Linked DNA regions of Homo sapiens: all the other regions are linked to region 1. A link means that fine-mapping ties the variant in region 1 to the plasma level of a protein whose gene starts in the linked region. Region 1 holds a variant in brackets. A gene starts in each other region. All regions are shown on their forward strands.

What was found. A credible set is the group of variants that fine-mapping cannot tell apart. PIP is the chance, under the fine-mapping model, that this variant and not a neighbour inherited with it causes the effect. The UK Biobank Pharma Proteomics Project read protein levels with antibody pairs (Olink). The fine-mapping took linkage between variants from a reference panel, not from the people measured, so its PIPs are less certain.
Region 2: PPBP starts here. The variant in region 1 is the best candidate, but not a certain one, in a credible set for the plasma level of the PPBP protein (UK Biobank, PIP 0.79).
Region 3: EGF starts here. The variant in region 1 is the best candidate, but not a certain one, in a credible set for the plasma level of the EGF protein (UK Biobank, PIP 0.76).
Region 4: TREML1 starts here. The variant in region 1 is the best candidate, but not a certain one, in a credible set for the plasma level of the TREML1 protein (UK Biobank, PIP 0.78).
Region 5: it holds the start of THPO, and the variant in region 1 is the best candidate, but not a certain one, in a credible set for the plasma level of the THPO protein (UK Biobank, PIP 0.57).

Annotation. Positions count from the first base shown.
Region 1 is chr16:81,834,990-81,839,107 of GRCh38, forward strand. The region is part of intron 2 of PLCG2 (phospholipase C gamma 2); the gene reads left to right. Among named protein-coding and RNA genes, the nearest start is that of PLCG2, 58 kb to the left of the region's middle. RefSeq lists an enhancer at 1,994-2,183. The variant C/T (reference allele first, on the strand shown) is at 2,375.
Region 2 is chr4:73,985,905-73,990,022 of GRCh38, forward strand. PPBP (pro-platelet basic protein) reads right to left here and starts at 2,286. Exons shown (of 3, transcript NM_002704.3): 1 at 2,052-2,286; 2 at 1,613-1,748; 3 at 535-1,470. The coding sequence starts at 2,199. The coding sequence ends at 1,368.
Region 3 is chr4:109,911,226-109,915,343 of GRCh38, forward strand. EGF (epidermal growth factor) reads left to right here and starts at 1,658. Exons shown (of 24, transcript NM_001963.6): 1 at 1,658-2,237. The coding sequence starts at 2,111.
Region 4 is chr6:41,152,724-41,156,841 of GRCh38, forward strand. TREML1 (triggering receptor expressed on myeloid cells like 1) reads right to left here and starts at 1,624. Exons shown (of 6, transcript NM_178174.4): 1 at 1,523-1,624; 2 at 1,035-1,367. The coding sequence starts at 1,565.
Region 5 is chr3:184,376,182-184,380,299 of GRCh38, forward strand. THPO (thrombopoietin) reads right to left here and starts at 2,026. Exons shown (of 6, transcript NM_000460.4): 1 at 1,894-2,026; 2 at 66-223. The coding sequence starts at 78. CHRD (chordin) reads left to right here and starts at 3,873. Exons shown (of 23, transcript NM_003741.4): 1 at 3,873-4,118.

The DNA of each region.
Region 1 (4,118 bases):
AGGCCCATTGCCCACCTCCTGGTGTCATGAACACTGTTTTTCTCAGTGGGAGGAGGTGGAGGTACCCAAAGAGGAGGAAGTGGCCTTCCAGGTGCCACTTACTTGGTTTGGTGTCAGCTCTGTTATTGATTCACTGTGTGACCTTGGACAAGCTCCTTGTCTGCTTTGAGCCTTAGAATTTTATGTCTGCAAAATGGGTATAATAATGACTCCTCTGTCGTAGGGTGGCTGGCACGAAATGGGATAATTTAGGTGAAGCAGTTAATATACTACCTTACGTACAGCTAACACTTAGTAAGTAGCTGTTATAATAATAATGAAGATGGCCGGGTGTGGTGGCTCACACCTGTAATCCCAGCACTTTGGGAGGCCAAAGCGGGCAGATCACCTGAGGTCAGGAGTTTGAAAGCAGCCTGGCCAACATGGCGAAACCCCATCTCTACCAAAAATACAAAAATTCGCCGGGTGTGGTGACACTACTTGGGAGGCTGAGGTATGAGAATCGCTTAAACCTGGGAGGTGGAGGTTGCTGTGAGCTGAGATTGTGCCATTGCTCTCTAGCCTGGGCGACAGAGCAAGACTCGGTCTCAAATATAATAATAATAATAATCATAATAATAATGATAATAATTGAAGATAATAGGAAAACCATGTTATTACCTATATTAGTGTCCTGTGGTTGCCATAACACAAGTGCCACAAAATGAGGGACTTAAAACAGAAATGTACTTATTCCCTTGCAGTGTGGAGCTTAGAAGTCTGAAATCAAGGTGTTGGTAGGGCAGTGCTCCCGCTGGAGGCTCTAGGGGAGGATCCTTCCTCTCCTCTTCCTGGCCTCTGGTAGCTGCTGGTGACCCTGGGTGTCCCTTGGCTGGTGGATATTGGCACTCCCATCTCTCCCTCTGAGTGTGTCTCTGTCCAAATTTCCCTCTTACAAGGACAGTAGTCTTGGGTTAGGACCCACCCTAATCCAGCATGAGCTCATCTTGACTACATCTGCAAAGACCCTATTTCCAAAGAAGGCCACATTCACACATACCAGGGACTGGACTTCTATGTATGTTTTTGGGGGATGCAGTTCAACCCCCAACATTACCCGTTTATACTTTCTTTCCAGGGCCACCAAGGACAAGACCAGAGTCATTTTCATCCTGAATTGGTGTCAACTAGTGTTTTCATACCCTAGAGACTATCCAAATGACACAGCTGACCCAATCCCTGCATTTCTCAGAGGGGGAAACTGAGGCCCAGGGAGGTAAAATGACTCTCCCAAGGTCACACAGTAAGGTAGTGGCAGTGGGACTGGATCGTGGATCTCCTGGTGCCCTGTATTGGCCCACGTGTCAGCCATGGACTCGTATTCCCACTGGTGGAGCCAAGAGGTTTTTGCTGTCTGCAGGGGAGAGCACTTTGGATCTTGGCTTCTCGTTTCATCCTTCCCTTGGTAGTGGTTAAGAGTGCAAGCTTTGGGCCGGGCAAGGTGACTCATGCCTGTAATTCCAGCACTTTGGGAGGGTGAGGTGGGTGGATCACCTGAGGTGAGGAGTTTGAGACCAGCCTGGTTAACATGGTGAAACGCCATCTCCAACAAAAATACAAAAGTTAGCCGGGCATGATGGCACACTCCTTTGGTCCCAGCTCCTTAGGAGACTGAGGCAGGAGAATCGCTTGAACTCAGGAGGCTGAGGTGCAGTGAGCTGAGATTGTGCCACTGCACTCCAACCTCAGCAACAGAGCAACACTATGTCTCAAAAACGAGTGCAAACTTTGGAGCCTGGCCATTCAGGTTCAAGTTCTGGCTCAACCATTGTGACCTTGAATGAGTCAGTGACTCTCTCTGCTTCAGCCTCCCCACCTGTGGAAGGAAGACAGTCATCTCAGCCTTACATGAGTGCACAGGTGTCAGGACCCCTGCTGTGCACACGGGCATGTACTCAGTGTTTCTGTGCATGTGGTTTCCCTTCCCTTTCCTCCTGTTTGGTTTTCTCTGAAGCCGAAAGGTCCTTAGTAGGAAGTTGAGGACCAGCGTTCTCCATGGGAAGACTCAACATCAGTTACAACTCTAGAATTTATTCCAGGCCATCCAAGTTAAGGTAGTTGTCTGTATTTTGAGAACCTTTCTCTTGCTGTAAAAAGCAAACAAAAACAAAAAAAGACAAACTAGCAAACTCAAAGAACGAGAATACATATACATGCAGTGCTGCTTCAGATGGAAGTCAGAAAAGTGTGTGATCAAATGAAAGGCTGTTGTTGAAAGGGAAGTCTGCATTTACTCTTCTGCCAGTTCTCAGACTACCTCAACTCCTTGCTGACATTCCTAGGAATTGTGGTCCCAGCTGGCTTCTATAGCTGTGTGACCTTTGCCTTTTCCAAA[C/T]GAGTGGGCACCCTGCAGGCCACTTCCTCTGGGTTTCAGTGCCCAGCTTATCAGGAGGCTGCATGAACATCTATTTCTAGCTGGGCGGGAAATAGGACGGGTCCTGGCAGAAGGCGGAGCCCAGAGGTGGCTGGTAGAATCCCCTGGGAGGAGTAAGGGATGCTCTCCGCAGGGACCCCCGTGTCGTGGGTGCCATGGCAAAGCGTTAACAACAGGCAGTGCCTAGGGAGCCTGAACCAAGGTTGGGAGTGTGGTTTCCTTCTCAGTTCCCTTTCCGTCTTCCTGATTATGACAAGAACATCTGTTTGGTACCAACATGTGTTTTTTTTTTTTTTTTTTCTCCTTGATGCTGTGCATTTTTTTCCATTGGAATTTTTGTTGAGATAATTGAAGAATCACATAAAGATGTAAGAAATGATACAGAGAGATCTCATGTGAACGTTACCCAATTATCCCCAATGGTAATATCTTGCAAACCTGTAGTGCAGTATCACAGCCAGGATATTAACATTCACAACATTCATAGAACCCACTACCAGTCTTATTCAGATTTTCCCCCATTTTCCTTGTACTTGTGTGTATTTAGTTATGTACAATTTGGTCACATGCATAGCATCCTATATCTGCCATCATAGTCAAGAGACTAAAGCAATGTAATGATTTCTTACACCAATTCCATTTCCAAAATTTTAACATGTCTGTCTTTGAAAGATACTAATTTTCTTTTTTTTTTGAGGCGGAGTCTGGCTCTGTTGCCCAGGCTAGAGTGCACTGGCTTGATCTTGGCTCACTGCAACCTCTGCCTCCTGGGTTCAAGTGATTCTCTTGCCTCAACCTCCCAGCTTCCCAAGCACCTGGGACTGTAGGCACCTGCCACCATGCCTGGCTAATGTTTATATTTTTAGTAGAGATGGGGTTTCACCATGTTTCCCAGGCAGGTTTTGAGCTCCTGGCCTCATGTGATCTGCCTGCCTTGGCCTCCCAAAGTGCTGGGATTACAGGCATGAGCCGCCGTTGCCAGCCTGAAAGATATGAAATGTCTTTATTAAAATATAACTTGCAGACATAAAAAAGAATGAGTTCATGTCCTTTGCAGGGACATGGATGAAGCTGGAAGCCATCATTCTCAGCAAACTAACACAGGAACAGAAAACCAAACGCCGCATGTTCTCACTCATCAGTGGGAGTTGAACAATGAGAACACATGGACAGAGGGAGGGGAACATCACACACCAGGGCCTGTCAGGGGGTGGGGGCAAGGGGAGGGAGAGCGTTAGGACAAATACCTAATGCCTGCAGGGTTTAAAACCTAGATGATGGGTTGATAGGTGCAGCAAGCCACCATGGCACAGGTATGCCTATGTAACAAACCTGCACGTTCCGCACATGTATCCCAGAACTTAAAGTAAAATTAAATATATATATATATATATATATATATATATGTAAATAACATAGATGTGGTAAAATGCACACATGGTGCATGTAAGGCTCAAGGCTTTAAGCATGGGTCCACCTCTGTGGCCATTCCTCGGGTCCCGGTGACCCAGTCCTCTCTTTAGGTGACACCACTCTGACCCCATCAGTGAGTCTTGCATGGCTAATTGGCTTTGTGCCTCTCTTAAAGGCTTCTCATTTCCCTTTATGACTCACAGAACCAAGCCGAGGGTTTTGCTTCCAGCAGACAACTATTTCTAGGTAGAATTTAATCATATTGTCACGTTTCCACTGATTTTATTATTTT
Region 2 (4,118 bases), not on the chromosome of region 1:
AACTTGATTTTTCTCTTCTGTAACACTGGGGAGGATAATAATAATCATAAGAAATAATTACTAACATTTATGTGTGGCTTATTTATGACACACATTATTTTAAATACCTTAAATTTATTAACTTTTTTAATCCTTCCATAAACTCTATGAGGGAGGCAATATTATCCCCATTTTAGGGATGAAGAACCTAAGGTACAGAGAAATTAAGCAACATGACCTGATATACACAGCTAACAAGTGGCAGAGCCAGGTTACCTCATTATTCAAACTCCAGAGGATGTTCTTTTAACCAGATCATATCTATCTTTTAAAAAATTGTTTAGTTCATGCATGGAAAACACTTAGTATTCCTGGCATATTAAAATGATTAATAAATTGGAACTGTTATCATACTACATTAAGAATGACACCGATCATCAATTTAGTAACTTTTGTTGTTCAAACTGTGAAATACCAAGTATACAAAAAAGAGAGGAAAATTAAAGCTTTTTTTCCCCAACAATCCTGTTAAAATTAATAATAGATGACAACAAGTCAATAGCAAATTTTTATTTCATGTGAATATTTTTGTAAGAATAGTGTGGGTATAAGTTTTAGGGTTTAAAAAATGAATGAAAGTTCTGTTGATGAAAAAAGTAGAATTTAGAATTAGGAGTCTAGTAAGGTTGAAGTCCTATATTGTACTTATTTATAAGGCTCATTCTAATGATAGAATTATAACTATGTAGATATGTTAATTCATTTTCATCATCTATTTTTGTTCTACTAGTGGCAAATATATTCACTTTAAACCAGCTAACCACAGTTTATAAGATTCATATTCACCAATTTATTATTTTAGTGTTTGATGGCTAAAATAAACATCAGAATAAACTTTCAGGGAGTATTTTAAATAAGACATCCTAGGACTAAGACACTGAGAGACTCCATTAAGTTCCTAAATATATTAACAAAAATGTATTGAGCAAATATTCTCTGTTGGGCTCCATGTAATTCCTATTATCATTGACCATTATGAAATCTAATAATACCCATGAGTATGTCTAATAACCATAAAGTAGACCAGGAAAAATCAACCAAGTTGTGTTAGAATAGAAATTTTTAAAGAAAAAAATGCAAAGTACAGTCCAATGTTTAGGCAAGAATTAGAGGGTTGAAACCAGGCTTATTTATTTTCATCTTCTTTCTGCCATCTTTTAACCAACCTTCTCAGAATAAAATGTGATTTTTGAGACAGAATGAAACACATATCCAAATTTTAATACAGTAAGAATAGGTATCCTGAATAAATGAGAACTCTAGAAAATCAAGGTTTCAAAATTCTACCCTTCCTGGGAGTTAAAGAAGTTTGGCAGAAACAGAACAAATTAATCAGCAGATTCATCACCTGCCAATTTTTTCTGTACAATTTTCTTGATTCTGGGAGCATCTGGGTCCAGGCAGATTTTCCTCCCATCCTTCAGTGTGGCTCTGCAAAAGAGAACAGGGTTATCTGTGGGTGTCCTGATCTGAATATCAGAACTAATCCATGAGACTGGAGGAAACGAGTGCATATGTGGATGGAGGTAGAGGGTTTCTCTGATAAGGCAATAGCACAGAAACAGCAACTTACATCACTTCGACTTGGTTGCAATGGGTTCCTTTCCCGATCACTTCCAAACTTTGGATGTTTTTGGGATGAATTCCAGAGGTTGTCTTTATACACATGCAGCGGAGTTCAGCATACAAGTCACTGTCTAGACTTTCCTCTAGGGTAGAAAATGTGACCTATTGGTGGTCATGAATATTTTCCTCAGGTCTCTTATTTGCAGATTGAGGGCAATTGTACCTCTCTCATAAAGCCATTGTGAATATGATCTGTAACGCTTTAGTAAAGTGCCCAGAAGATTGCCCAGCACACAAGAAGTGAGAAGTGACCCCCCTGTGTGTCTCCTCCAATTGGAGTTATTGGTATAATGGCCCTCTCCAGCCCCAAAGGCACCAAGCTAGTCTTTACCCCAGAGACAGGTGTAGCAGAAGCAGCAACAAGTGCAGAGAAGCAGGGCCTCTACCTTTGCCTTTCGCCAAGTTTCTCTTAGTTTGTCCTTTGGTGGAGGAAGCCAGAGCAGTCAGCAGCAATGACAGAAGCAGCAGCACCTGCAAGGCATGAAGTGGTCTCGCACTGTTACAGGAAGGGGTGGTATCAAGTCTGAGGCTCATGGTGGAGAAGGCTGAGCTAGAGTTGTTTCCAGAACCAGAAGACCTCTGAGTGAGGGTGAGTTGCTGCCTACAAGTCTGCAGATAAGTGGCTTCTCATGCCCTGAAGATGTCATTTATATGCTCTTTCTCAAAGCCAGTAAGAAGGAAGAGGTAGGAAAGGAGGAAGTGAGGGTATGTGGTGATACACACATAAGCATTTGAAGCTGTGCCCAACCCAGAGAAAGACCAGACAGGTCAAATTCCTACTAACTTGCTTAATGTGCATCACTTCACATTCCCACTCTCCCTTTCTCAATACTTATCTTCCTTACACCTGTGTAAGAACTCCGTTCAGGAAGGTAAGAACTAGACTGAAATACTACATGCATTTTCTTTGTATGATTTATAACAATACGCCCTGCCTTTTCTATACTGCAGTTTTTAGGCTTAATAGAAACTTTAGGAGCACCTGAAGGCACAAACATGTGGCCCTTGAAAGAGAAAGTTATCTTTGCTTGCCAAAGAAAGCAAATGTTCTTTTCATGAATGTTGATAAATATTGGGATTGGTTTGGAGCATGTAAGTAAAATAAGAGCCAATTACCGTCAAAGGTTGTCTTTGGATTTTAGCTTATTGGATTCTTTCTGCCTTCAATCTATATTATCTTTTGTAATTTCATCTAGAAACTACAAATGAAACTCATCCTCCTTTATATTACAAAAGAAGCTACTTGTTTCTACCACCTAAGAATACCTAAAAAGTAGGACCCAGCATATTTATTTTTCTTTTTATTTTTAATTTAACAGAAAAATTATATAATTTATTGCAAAAGATTCGTATGCTGCAGATGTCTTTGAAATAAAACACAAATTTCTCTTCATCATTTCTCCACATTCCTACTATTCAGTGGTAAACACTGGTAACAATTTTGCATTAGTTTTCAATTCTGTCTGCACTTATATGCACACATGTATATGTATACAATGAGACACGTTTAAGACATAGAGGTACACATATACATAGAAGTATTGTATATGGATCACTATACAGCTGACTTTTATCCTTCAAAAAATATGTGTTCCTTATCTTTTCAGGTCATCTTAATGTAGTTTTCCCCCATTCTTCTTAATGACCATGTGACGTCCTGTGATAAGAACAATAGTTACTCAACCTTGCCTTGTTGGTGCCCTTCACGGTGTTTCCAATTTTGCACTATTAGAAATTGTGCAAGAAATGTCCTTACCAAGGAAAATATTTGTTCCTGAATTCTCAGACCCAAATTAAAGGTTTTGGTCTGAAATGCTATATCCCTACAAAGATAGAGAGGTGGACCTACACATTACATGTTGGCTTTATGTTATTTTCTGGTTCTCTGTCCCATCTGTAAGACTTCCTTCCTCAATTGAACCATGCACTTTTGTAGGGAGTGGCATGTCCTGTGTTTGTTTGAATGTCTCATGTATCCTATAACATGTAGGATACTTCAATATAAAGTAGGTCTTAAATAATTAATAAATCAATGAATACGTATCACATGAAAGCTTCCCTATCCTTTCTAATCACCTACAATTCCAGGCCAAACTCGACAGGACCCAAAGCAACTATGCTATTTAAATTTATTTGGAAGATTGTCAATAAAGAAGAGGCAGATGTAAGTGGCACTGGCAACAAGTTTTCTTCCTTTTACAACTATGTATAAGTCTCACAGAATATTATTTAAATTTTCCATATTCTTTTCTTACTTTTCATATCCTTAAATTTTAGAAGAAATGCTTAAAATACTAAATGTTCAAAATTACTCTCTATCAAAAAGATGAATATAGTAATTTTTTAAATCATGTTTTTGTTTTCAAGCCAATTTTCCCTATTGTTTAATAGTTATCTACTATGTCTACTCAAGTTCTCAGGTCCTGTTTTTAAATGCGATAACCTACAGACCA
Region 3 (4,118 bases), not on the chromosome of region 1:
TTGATTTTCATCATCAGTCATCAGCCATAGCATCTGCTATACCTCTGTTGACTCCGTCATCTCCTAGGGAGCTTGTACTCAACATTAATGACAACATTAGCCCAGGTGACATGTAATTAAGAAAGCAAACCTTTTTCCAACCAAAAATAATATGAGAGATTCCAAATCCAAACAGAACAGAGCTGTGGATCATTTCATGTTTGTCTTCATATCATTCTCTCCACTCCACTCCACTGACACAGCGTGATGCTTGATTGTCCTCTAAGCCCCTTCCATTGCTGTCATCTGGGATGCTGGCAATGTATTGTGCTGAAAGGGAAGCTTATTAATAAAGTTAGTAACTCGAAGAGTCAGTGCAGGTTATTTGTAGGATGCTCATTATGAGTCTTGAGTCTGACTCAGTCCAGAAAGCAATGGAATATTCCGCATAACCACCTAAAGGACTTCTCTTTCCCCCTTCCCCAGGGTCTGTTTCTCCTGTAAGGGTTCAGAGCTGCCTGGCAGAGGCTGGCTGAAATAGGAGAAATCCTGACTTAAGCTGTTTCAGGAAAGTGATCCAGTCTTTGGAGAATAATCAGGACATAATTAAGTATGAGTAAAAGGCTTAGAGTTAGTCTGTTCTCCTCTGTAATGGGGTGTTCACTAGTGTGACAGTTGTTTTTGTGACTATTGCTTTTACGTACATTTTTGACCAGCACTTGGAACACTACCTCAGGGTAACTTAAATGAAAGTCCATTTTCCAGGATGGAGTAAACTGACAGAAATTTCCATCGTGCATCAAATCTGCTATAAGTTGTTTGCCTTCTGGGTATTTTTGGGCCCTAGTTGTACTCCTGAAGAAATAACCACTGTTGCTCCAAGTAGAAAGTGGTTGAGGAGACAGCTAACAGATACGTCCAGTTCTTATTTTCTATCACAGAGATGTGAAAAAAAAAAAGCCTAAATTATCTTAGAAGGAAAAGCATTCCTCTGTGCTGGATTTCCAGTGCTTCCCAGCTTTGCACTGTTAGCTTATTTTTTCCAATGTCCCTATAATAACAATCCACTCCTTTCTCTGCACTCCTGGCCCCTCGTGATGTTTTATCATGCTCATGCTGAAAGAAAAGGTGTCTGTCCATACTGTATCTCTTCATTTGGCCTCAGGGATTTCCCTTTGATTTGGAAAGAATAATCTTTCAAATTCCGCTATAAACTATACAGGAGAAAGAGAAAAATAAGATAAAGCTCCTGGAATGTGCACTGGTATTGACATTTCGTTCAAATAATGGGCTGAAGGTGAACTATCTTTACTATTGCTCATGTGAATGATCAATTATTATCAATCCAAACTATCAACAGTGCTGCTTATTATTGATTTATACTGCATGGTTTAATTTTGTCTCCATCCTTCCAGACATTAAAACATAGCCAATATTTAGCAGTTCCCGCCATTCACCATGAGCACCTCCACAGCCCCCAACTCCTCTCTCCCAGTTCTGCCCAGGATATTTATGGTGAGTAGCGAGTTATCTCCTCTTTGGCAGTCATCCCTGCTTTCCTGTGTGGAGGAATTGCCCACATTCGCATTTGCAAACAGAGGCTCACTCAAGTGTCACTAAAGGAAAGGAGGTGGAGCCTGAAGAGCTTTAAAAAGCAAAGCTGAGTCATTCCACTTTTCAAAAAGAGAAACTGTTGGGAGAGGAATCGTATCTCCATATTTCTTCTTTCAGCCCCAATCCAAGGGTTGTAGCTGGAACTTTCCATCAGTTCTTCCTTTCTTTTTCCTCTCTAAGCCTTTGCCTTGCTCTGTCACAGTGAAGTCAGCCAGAGCAGGGCTGTTAAACTCTGTGAAATTTGTCATAAGGGTGTCAGGTATTTCTTACTGGCTTCCAAAGAAACATAGATAAAGAAATCTTTCCTGTGGCTTCCCTTGGCAGGCTGCATTCAGAAGGTCTCTCAGTTGAAGAAAGAGCTTGGAGGACAACAGCACAACAGGAGAGTAAAAGATGCCCCAGGGCTGAGGCCTCCGCTCAGGCAGCCGCATCTGGGGTCAATCATACTCACCTTGCCCGGGCCATGCTCCAGCAAAATCAAGCTGTTTTCTTTTGAAAGTTCAAACTCATCAAGATTATGCTGCTCACTCTTATCATTCTGTTGCCAGTAGTTTCAAAATTTAGTTTTGTTAGTCTCTCAGCACCGCAGCACTGGAGCTGTCCTGAAGGTACTCTCGCAGGAAATGGGAATTCTACTTGTGTGGGTAAGTACTCCAATGAAAAGGTGCTCCAGGTCTCCGGGAAACTGCCCCCACATCCCTGTTGGTTCAATCTGGTATACTTGGGCATTTAACAAAGTTTGTCTTTGGGTATGTATAGTTGCTTAATTTTTGTTTTCTGATGCATGTTTATTTTCTTACTGGCCATTAGAGCTAATCTGCTACCAACTATAAAACTTCATAACTCTCAAACTGTACTTCTGTGTATAAGTGAATGAATATGCCTCATTTTAAACTAGCAGAACATTTCATGGAAGCTTCAGCTTTTACTCTGACAAGAGGAGTAATTAACACCTGGCTAATTGCTTGGAAATTAGGGAAACAGATGGTTGATTTTTTGTTTGTCTGTTTGAAACTCTTAAGCCACAAAGAAAAAAATCCTTCCTTCTGATAACTTGTAAGAATTCAGAAGTTCTAAAAATTAGTGAAAAATGGAAAGGGAACTGTGAACAAAGGTAGTTGTGAAAATTAACCTAAATTTCAATTTCAACCTCCTTCACTTTCTCCCCACTCTTACTGTTTCTGAGGCTCTGACACAACTCCGGAGTTTTAGTAACAGGTGCATTGCAACTTTAAGAACTGCCAAATATGATAATGGGTAAATAAGCCACACTGTCCTCTCATATTAAATGAATTTTTTGCCAAGGGGAAATGGGAGCTTGACTGAATGCGAATTACAATCCTGCCAAAGGATATTGCCTGAAAAACATTCTCTCTCTAACTGTTAATTCATTTATTTAATCCTTGGGTGAGCCTCCAACCTGCTGCTTAGACACGGCAGCCGCCTTTGTTGATGAGAGGTTATAGCTGCCCCGACATTCCATTTTTATCAGCTTGCCCTTTTGAGATGGCGTCTGGCTTTTAAAAAGAGGTAGATTGAGGGGGAAAACACAGTACAGTTTCCAGAAGAGACACCTATGGAAGACAGTACACAATAGGCAATAGTTTGAATAAAGAGAGCAGAATGGAGCCAAACTGCCAAAGCTAGGCTGCTGTCCTGGCTCTCCCATTAAGGAAGTTCCCGATGAGGAAATCAGGTGCTTTTGCTCAGAATCTCTGGACTCTGTTCTCAGGTAGCACTCCTTGTAACAGGTGAGCAGAACTCTAGGGTATTTGAAATAAAGACTTAATCCTAGTGATCTCTATGTTCCCAGCACCTAGGACATTCCTGCTTCCACAGTGTGTACTCAGCAAATTCTTGTGTATGAATGAGGCGTCTTTCTCTGATCTGCTAATGACATAGTCCTAGAGAACAGCAACAAAAAGAGGGTGACAAATGACAAAAATGGCCCCATGAACCTCAGACTCAGCTGTTGGAGACAGAAGTAAAACTTCTGTATACAGTTATGTCAAATGGACTGGACTCTCTTTGGGGTGGGAGAATTTTCCGTGGAGTAGTTGGCAAATATCTAGAGTTGGGCACTGTCATTTGCATGGGATGTGAGGGGTGATGGTTGGGCCGATCTATCAGGCAGCCAGAAGCTAGGAAAGAAGAACCCAGGTTGCTGAAGCAGAACCCAAGAAATTACAAAAATGAGCTTTTATGGATGGCTCTAGGATCTCAGAATAGTCTGATTCCTGCTGGCAAGCAAGTCTATGCCTTGTTTTCCTTGCCACCTCTGGTGGCTCAGAAGTGCCTTCATTGAGGTAGGTTGTACCCAATAAACATGAAACCCAGGATAGAAACAATAAGTTGGGGAGACTGTGTCACAGAGTGGAAGGAACCACAGGTTTTAGAAACAAACAAGCCTCATTTCATATCCATGCTACCAACTTAATAGCTGAGTTACTTTAGAGTATCTCTGGGAAATAATACCCTCGCCCACTGCTTTTAGGATTTTTTTGTGGGGAATCACATGAGATAAC
Region 4 (4,118 bases), not on the chromosome of region 1:
TTAGCTGGGCATGGTGGTGGGCACCTGTAGTCCCAGTTACTTGGGAGGCTGAGACACAAGAATCACTTGAACCCGAGAGGCCAAGGTTGCAGTGAGCCGATAGTGCCACTGCACTCCAGCTTGAGCAACAGAGTGAGACCCTGTCTCAAACAAAACAAAAAACAAGGGAAGGGAAAATGCTCTACTTAATTTTATTATTTGGGGGTTGGGCATAAAATATGAGAAAAGGAAGACCTAAAGGTGAAAAAATGGCCAGTATCCATAAAAGAAAAGGAGTGGCTGTCTGTGCTTCAGGTAGCTGACCATTTTTTATTTTTAGAACATCCTATCTTTCTTAAAAAAAAAAACCCAAGTTTTTAATATTTTAAAATTTTCTTTTAACAAATGCTTATATACTAGAAAAGTTATGGGCTGTGGGAATGAAACCTGCAAAAACAGTGTCTTTAATACTGAAAATAGGGTCAAGAATATTGGCTTAAAATATTAATGACATTTTTCCATTTTTAAAACGAAAGGAGTTGAAGTTGTTCAGGCACTGAATGTACCTACTTGTAGGTGAGACATACTAGATGGCCTGTGAAGACTTATAAAATTAATTAAGGTATGAATTCCATAATTCTTAAGCCATCAAGCCCGCTATTACAGGAATAAAACACTGGAAGCTACAAAAATTAATTCTGGTTTTATACACTCAGATTCAACATTGTTTAAAATATTTCTAATTAAAAAATAAGTTAGCATCAAGTATGTTGAAAATGCTGGAAGAAGAGGCCAAGTCCCTGGAGTGGGAAGGACATGCCTTCCTGTGGGGAAGCGCAGTAGTGTGGAAGGGGGAAAGGGATGGTTTTCAGCTGATTTATCTCAGACTTCCCACCCAGTTTGGTTTCCGCTCCCTGCAGAGCTGTCAAGAGGATATCTCCTTGGAATGCCTCCTCCCCAGGGGCCCCCACTCCTCAAGAACCCATGAGCCCTGGCAATAGGCGGGGGTGGGGAGGGTAGGTCTAAGGGGTGGTAGCTGGCCTAGGATAACTCACCTGGGGGCAGTATGTTCAGAGAGACTCTGTGCAAAATCTGGGGCCCCCTGGCCCCATCCACCATGCAGCCATACTCGCCAGCATCCTCTTCCTGCAGGGTAACCATTTCCACCTGCAGCAGGCCCCCACCCAGGTCTGTGAGAAACGTACGCCTGCCCGCTGGAGCTCTGCGATCCACAGCTGAGGACACCAGGGGCTGGCACCCCTCCGGCAAGAACCGGCACCACACCTTCTGAGCTTTGACATCCTGGAGCCTGTAGTGGCACTGCACCAGAATGGAGCTTCCCACGGGTGCCTGCAGCACCTCAGGGAGGCTGCCAACTATGCCCTGACCTGGGGAAGGAAAGGAGGTGGGAATTTTGGGCAGGAGCTGGGAGCATCTCCCAGCCCAGCTGCTGGTATGGGTGTGGCATTCACAATAACACGTTACTCCTGGACATGGGGCTGAGCATATGGGGCCCAGAGCTGCAGCTCCTCCTGAACCTTACCTTCTAGTCCCAGGAGCAGCAGCAAGAGCAGGGTGAGGCCCATGGCTGGGCAGAGAAATGTCAACTCCTGGGCTTGCCTGGGCACTGATGCAGCATTCGCCTGAGGGCAGGAAACATCTGCCTCAGAAAGTCACTTGGGGTGGGAGAAAGGAAATGATGGGCACCTCCAGGGGTGGGGAAAGGGAGTTCTTCCAAGCCCTGGTTGGCTCAGTGCTCAGGAACTGCCCTGAGGGTAAGGGTGGGCAAGACAGGATGAGAAGACCCGAAGAAAGCTAGAAGCCTGCAGGGGCTGGGGCCCGGCTAAGGGGTGAGATGGGAGGATTGTGACAATTGGAGGACAGGAGAGGAAGAGGAAAGATGATCTTCAGGATCTTCCTAATACAGAATCTGAGGGTGCACAGCTATGAAGGAGGAAGGTAGAGTGCCCTGCACCTCACTCAATGCCATTCTTGCTCTCAATTCTTTGGGAGTGCCCCACGACCACCCAAGCTTTTAGGAGGTTGTATGCAGTACAACCTCAAACAGGAAGTTTCACCTTGATCCTGTGCCCTGGACTGGGTCTTTCTTCATTTATTGTCCTGGACACTATAGAACCCTTCCATCTGGATCCACATTCTTCAGTTCTGGGAAACAAATTCTTACTTTGATAATTACATGTCCATTTTCTTCTCCCCTTCCATTTTTCTGCAATTCCTTAACTAGTTGGTTATTGAATGTCGTGTGTTCATCTCATTTTCATATCTTTTCTATCTCATTTTCCATCTTTTTGTCTCTTTTGTTCTGCCTTCAAGGAGATTTCCTCATTTTCTTCCATCCTTCTATTTTTGTCTTTTAAAATGTTATTTTTTAATATTTTTAATTTACAAGACAAGATATTCCTTATTCTTTGAGCATTTTTAAATTCTGGCATACTATTTTTGTTTCATGAATGCTCTATCTTCTCTGTTGGAAGACAATTCTTCACAAATATTTTCACATTGCTGCATGTTCTAGTCCTTCTGTGCAAAGGGTATTGGCCAAGTTTTGCTGAAGGGTGATTGAATAGCAAACATACCTTGAGTGCAACGTCCAGAGATTTGCTCGCATTCTTCCTCTTCTTCACCGGAGATTTACATTCCAGAGTAAACGTTTCTCTCTCTCTCTCTCTCTCTCTCTCTCTCTTCCAGAGAGGAAGATATACCAGATTCTCTATATAAACTCCAAGTCTCCTAATTTGGGGGTTTCTCTCCTGTGATCCAAACTCACTGCCTGCACAGGAGGCACCTGGCTCTCATTCATGTTGCCCTGTGGAATTGGGCTCGAGGAACTGGGACAAAGTGTGAGTAATAAACCTAATAAACTATCTGACCTCAGACACAGGGGAAGCACCAGTGGTCAGAGAGACTACAGCAGCTGGGGATGGGTGGGAGGGGCGTATTGCCCTAATCTGGAGGGTAAGACCTAGAAAAGGGCCTGGAAAGGCCATTCTCCCTCACTCCCATCTCCTCCCGTCTCACCTTTTTTCCTCTTTTTCCTTCCTTCCTTTGGGAACAAGGGAGTGAGGAATGGGAAACTGGGAGCAGGAGCATGAGAAAATCAGTTAATGTGTTAAGCTGGGCCTTGTGGAAGTGGGAGATTGGGTGACCAACTTCCCGTTTTTGCTTGGGATTGAGGGGTTTCTTGGGACTTTCTGTGCAAAAACTGAAAAAGTCCTGAACAAACCAGGACGGGTCACCCTAGTTGGTGATGTGCTTATGTCTGTCTTGCCAATGCATATCAGGCTTTCTTTGATTTCCTTATAAGAAAGTTATTTTCATACTAACAAGCCACCCAGGCGTGTTGTGTGAAGAGGTGAACTGTATTCAACACTGGACTAAGTGTTGAATATGGTCCACTGCTGGGTGCTGAGACAGAGGTGACCAGGCAAGATCCTGGCCTTCATGGAGACATCATGTTGCTGGGCGTTAGATGAAGGAAACCAGTGTTTATTGAGGACCTACTATGTGCCAGTCACCTGGCCAAGGACCTTCACAATGTTATTTCTTTCTTTTTTTTTTTTCTTTTGAGACAGTCTCACTCTGTCACCCAGGCGGGAGTGCAGTGGCGCAATCTTGGCTCACTGCAACCTTGGCCTCCTAGATTCAAGCAATTCTCTGCCTCAGCCTCCCAAGTAGCTGGGACTATAGGCATGCACCACATGCCTGACTAATTTTTGTCTTTCTTTTTTTTTTAGTAGAGACAGGGTTTTGCCATGTTGGCCAGGCTGGTCTTGAATTCCTGGCCTCAAGTAATCCACCCCACTCAGCCTCCCAAGGTGCTGGGATTACAGGCGTGAGCCACCATGTCTGGCCACGAATGTTATTTCTTTCAACCTCACAAAAACCTTGCAAAGTAGGGGAAGTGGTTGTTTTGTTTATTTGTTTCTACAAGCGAGGGCACTGGGTTTTAGAGGGATTGAGGAGCTTGCCTAAGGTGTCTTAATAGGAGGCAGAGTTGAAATTTGAGGCCAAATGGCCTCACTTCCCTTCAGTCCAGAGTGCTCGCAGAGAGTCTGAGGCAGGAGAGCCTGTGGTGATTCCAGTCCAGAGAGGAATGTCTCTGACATGGCAGAGAAGGA
Region 5 (4,118 bases), not on the chromosome of region 1:
TCTCCTTTCTCTCTCCCCTTCTGTCATGTTTCCATATGGCCCTAGCCCCTCAGGTGTGTTCTCACCAGTCAGCTCCATTCTGGCCGGGGTGTCTGGCTGGCGTGGCTCCCTGTTTGGGGCCTCTCCCCTGAATCCTTCCTGGGGCCATGGAGGCGGCTTAGGCTCTTGCACTTCTGGGCAGAGTAGGGTGGGGCAAAGGCGGGCCAAGGGTGAAGAATCTATCCTGAAAGTAGCAAGAAGAGTGAACATTTAACCAAGTTTCTAGGAAGAGACTGCCTGGCAGGGTGAACAGATGCTGGGGAGGGCTTGAGATGCTGACCAGCCTGGAACTGCCAAAGCCCTGAATTCTCTCACATTTTCTTGTGATGAAAGCATATGGTGTGCCGGGTGCAGTGGCTCATGCCTGTAATCCCAGCACTTTGGGAGTCCAAGGCGGGTGGATCACCTGAGGTCAGGAGTTCGCCACCAGCCTCACTAACATGGTGAAACCCCGGCTCTACGAAATACAAAAAAACTAGCAGGGTGTGGTGGTTCATGCCTGTAATCCAAGCTACTTGGGAGGCTGAGACAGGAGAATCGCTTGTACCTGGGAGGCGGAGGTTGTGGTGAGCCGAGATCGCACCATTGCACTCCAGCCTGGGCAATAAGAGTGAAACTCCGTCTCAAAAAAAAAAAAGAAAGAAAGAAAGAAAGAAAGAAAGCAAGAAAGCATATGGTGTCTCCTTTTTGTCAGGACTCCTCAGTGAATCGGACATGGATTTGGTGCCACCTACCCCTGCTGAGAGCAGCAGGACATGATATGTATACACACATATCTTAATTAGCCTTAAATTCTGAGCAACCTTGGTTGTTAGGTCAGAGAAAATCTGGGATGGGGATAGAGAAGGAAAGTATTGTGGCTTCAGCCTGGAGAAGAGAGTGGAAAATGGGATGCAGGGCCTGGGTGAGGAACTGGCAAACGGGCGCAATATGTTGAGGGGTAACTTCTGCGGTGGGGAGTGGGGCTGGGGAGGGGAACTGCACAAAGCTGTAACTGGGACCACTAGAGGTCAGGATTAAAAGGCGGTATGGGAGAAATTAACCTCTATTCTTTCCCTATCTACCCCCACACATAAAGCCACTGGAGCTTTTCTCTGGACTCCAAGTCCTGAAATACTCCATTATCTGAGGCCAAGAGATGGGCTAACAGTTCTGGGACTTCCTTCCTGAGACCAGCTGCCCAGGAACGGGCACCTGCTGGGTGATGCCCACCTTAGGGGCTTACCTTGTCTTAGGCGCCCACTAACATATCTGTCTCATAGCTCACACCTGCCTCCCTGCCCCCTTGGCAGAACCCCTTCCGGTTCCTTCACAGGACCCCCCACATGGCTTCCTCCTCCTTTCACAAGTTGTGCAAAGAGGCTTGCACCTGATTCAATATTGGGATTTCCTGTAGGTCTGTCAACATGAGTGGGCCCTCCTCCCATTACCCTCTCCTTGCGCCCTGGCTTGCCTGGCCCAGCTTCCCCAGCACCAGATTCAGAACCTTAAGCTAACGAGGAATGACCAGCTAAGAATGGGGATTGGGGCTGTGTCCATCTTACTACTGTGTTTGCTAAGCCCTAAGTGCAGCTCCCTCTCTTATTTTCTCCCTGGGCTCATGTCCCCTTTCCTTAGGGCCAGCCAGGGCTGTGCTGTATTCCACCAAGTAAGTGATCAGTCCCTCAGAAACCAGCACCCCACCCCCTACCCCTGCTCTGCCCTGCTCCTCCCATTCTGGGAAGGCTACACTCTTCTCGACAAAGGTCAGTGCCTGTAGGTTCCAGTTTGCCTGCCCCTCCCCCAGCTGGGAGCCCATTTCTCTTTGCTGTCCTTTCTACCCTCACATAACCCCACACCCTGCTGGCCACTCACCGGGTGGAGAAGGGCTCCAGGACCCAAGTGCACAGCAGGCAGCCCTCTGGGGAGCAGATGGGTAGGAAGACATGTGGCGGTGGGGCACAGCCCCTCCACAGCAGCAGGTCATACGCCTGCCTGGGCCACTTCTGCCCAATCAGAGAAGGGAGCCACCAGACACTGGTGAAGGCCCCCGGAAGTGACGCCTTCTCTTCCCTGGAGCCCCTGCCTGGACCAGGGTCCACTCCTCCACCCACACACACCACGGAGAAGATTTGGATAGGGGGATCCATCTTTTCCTGGACATGGGCAACCTGGGACCTGGAGGGGGACAGGAGCAGAAGTTTTTTTCCAGGAGGAATCTGGCAGGACATTTGTGTTGCTGGGGAAGAAGCACAGAGGTCTTGTTTAAGATTGGTGGGGTTTTCACTCCCTGGCTATCCAAATTTCTTTTCCCTGGACATCATACCTGCTGCTGAAATCCAACAGGATGCTTGCTTTCCTGCTTTTCTTTCTGTAATCCCCTAGGGAGTCCTATCTTGTCATTCCCCCTTTCGAAGTGGGAACACGGATATTGCCCACATGAGAGAAATCTCCTGTTATGGGTTGGTGTTATGGGGAAAGGGTTTGGACGGGTTGAGTGGACTGTCAGGTGCGGGGCACATGTATGTGCGCACACGTGCACTGGGTTAAGCCTGAGCTTAGGTGCTCGTCTGCTGGGGTCCAGTGGCTTAGATGGCTACACACACAGACCTCTGTGCCCAGGGCCCTCCTTTGCTTGTTCTGTCTCCGTCTTCCATCTCCTACCGTTCCACATGTGACAAGAGGAATAACCAGGCCCATGTGTCCCTGTCTTAGGAAAGACAGCTGCTGGACCTCCCCCGCAAATACCTCCCTGCTGGCCCCCCTTTTCCTTTGGCCCTGGCTCTAGCTCCTTTGCTTTCTTCCCAGTCCCAGTCTCCCCACAGTCTCTGTCCTCAGGGGCTTCCTGGCCTGACCTTGATCCCATCATCCCCCTGTCCCCCAGAACTTCCTCAGGCTCTCTCCTGTTCCTCCTCCCCAAGGATGGGCATGTCTGCTGAGAAGTGTGGCCTAGATCCTGGAATTTTCCCGTCCAGCCAGACGAGATGTCTCCCAAGATTAGGAAGGAGGGTGCTGGGATAGCTGGGAGGATAGTGGGTGTGTGTGGGAGGGAGAGACAGGAGACAGGGAGGCAGGCATGACCAGGGAACCAAGAGAAAGGAGGCTGGGAGTGGGCTGGAGAGGCAGAGGGTCCCTTGGGTGAAGGAAGGGGGTGAGAAAGCAAGAGGGGACTGTCGAATGCGCCTGAGGATAAGTTACAATGAGAGGGAGATACTGTCACTCCACAGAAGGGGGAATGCTGCCGGTTTCTGGCTAGGTCCCTGTCCTGGGTAACACAAGAATGAGGAGCGACCTCAGAGAGAAGGTAGGGAGGCAGGCTAGGCAGTGAGAGAGGGTGGTGAGGGTTTGGGGGGCGCTGTGGGCCCAGGCAGGGGGAGATCGGCTGATGGACCTTTCCTGTACGTTGTCATCTTTAAAGACAAGTCTTCATCCTTCGGGCGGAACCGGGTCCTCGCTCACAGAGCGGTCCAGGCCTCAGGCCTAGCCTCTGCCCCTCCCTAGCCTGAGGCTCCCTTCCTGGGCTGGACACCGACCTCCTGGTCCAGCCGCCCTGTGGCCGCCAGCAGCGGGGGGCTCCGGGCCCGCCTCTCCTCCCCCTCTTCGCGCCCCCTGGTCCCTCCCCTCCCCCTCCCCCGCTCCCCCTTCCCCTCCCGCCCCTCCCTCCTCCCCTGCCCGGTCCCAGCCCCTCCCTCCCCTCCCCCACCCGCGATCCGGGCCGCTGCTGCTGGGTCGGACCCCCCGGGCTCAGCCCGGCCCCTCGCCGAGCTGCCGCCGCCGCCCCGTTTGCTGAGGAGGAGGCCCCCGGCCGGGGCGTCGGGCGCGGGGCATAAAACGGGCCGGAGCCGGCGCCCGGGGCAGTAGAGCCGCGTACGGCCCGGGTCAGCGCCCGCCCGCCCGCGCTCCTCCCGGCCGCTCCTCCCGCCCCGCCCGGCCCGGCGCCGACTCTGCGGCCGCCCGACGAGCCCCTCGCGGCACTGCCCCGGCCCCGGCCCCGGCCCCGGCCCCCTCCCGCCGCACCGCCCCCGGCCCGGCCCTCCGCCCTCCGCACTCCCGCCTCCCTCCCTCCGCCCGCTCCCGCGCCCTCCTCCCTCCCTCCTCCC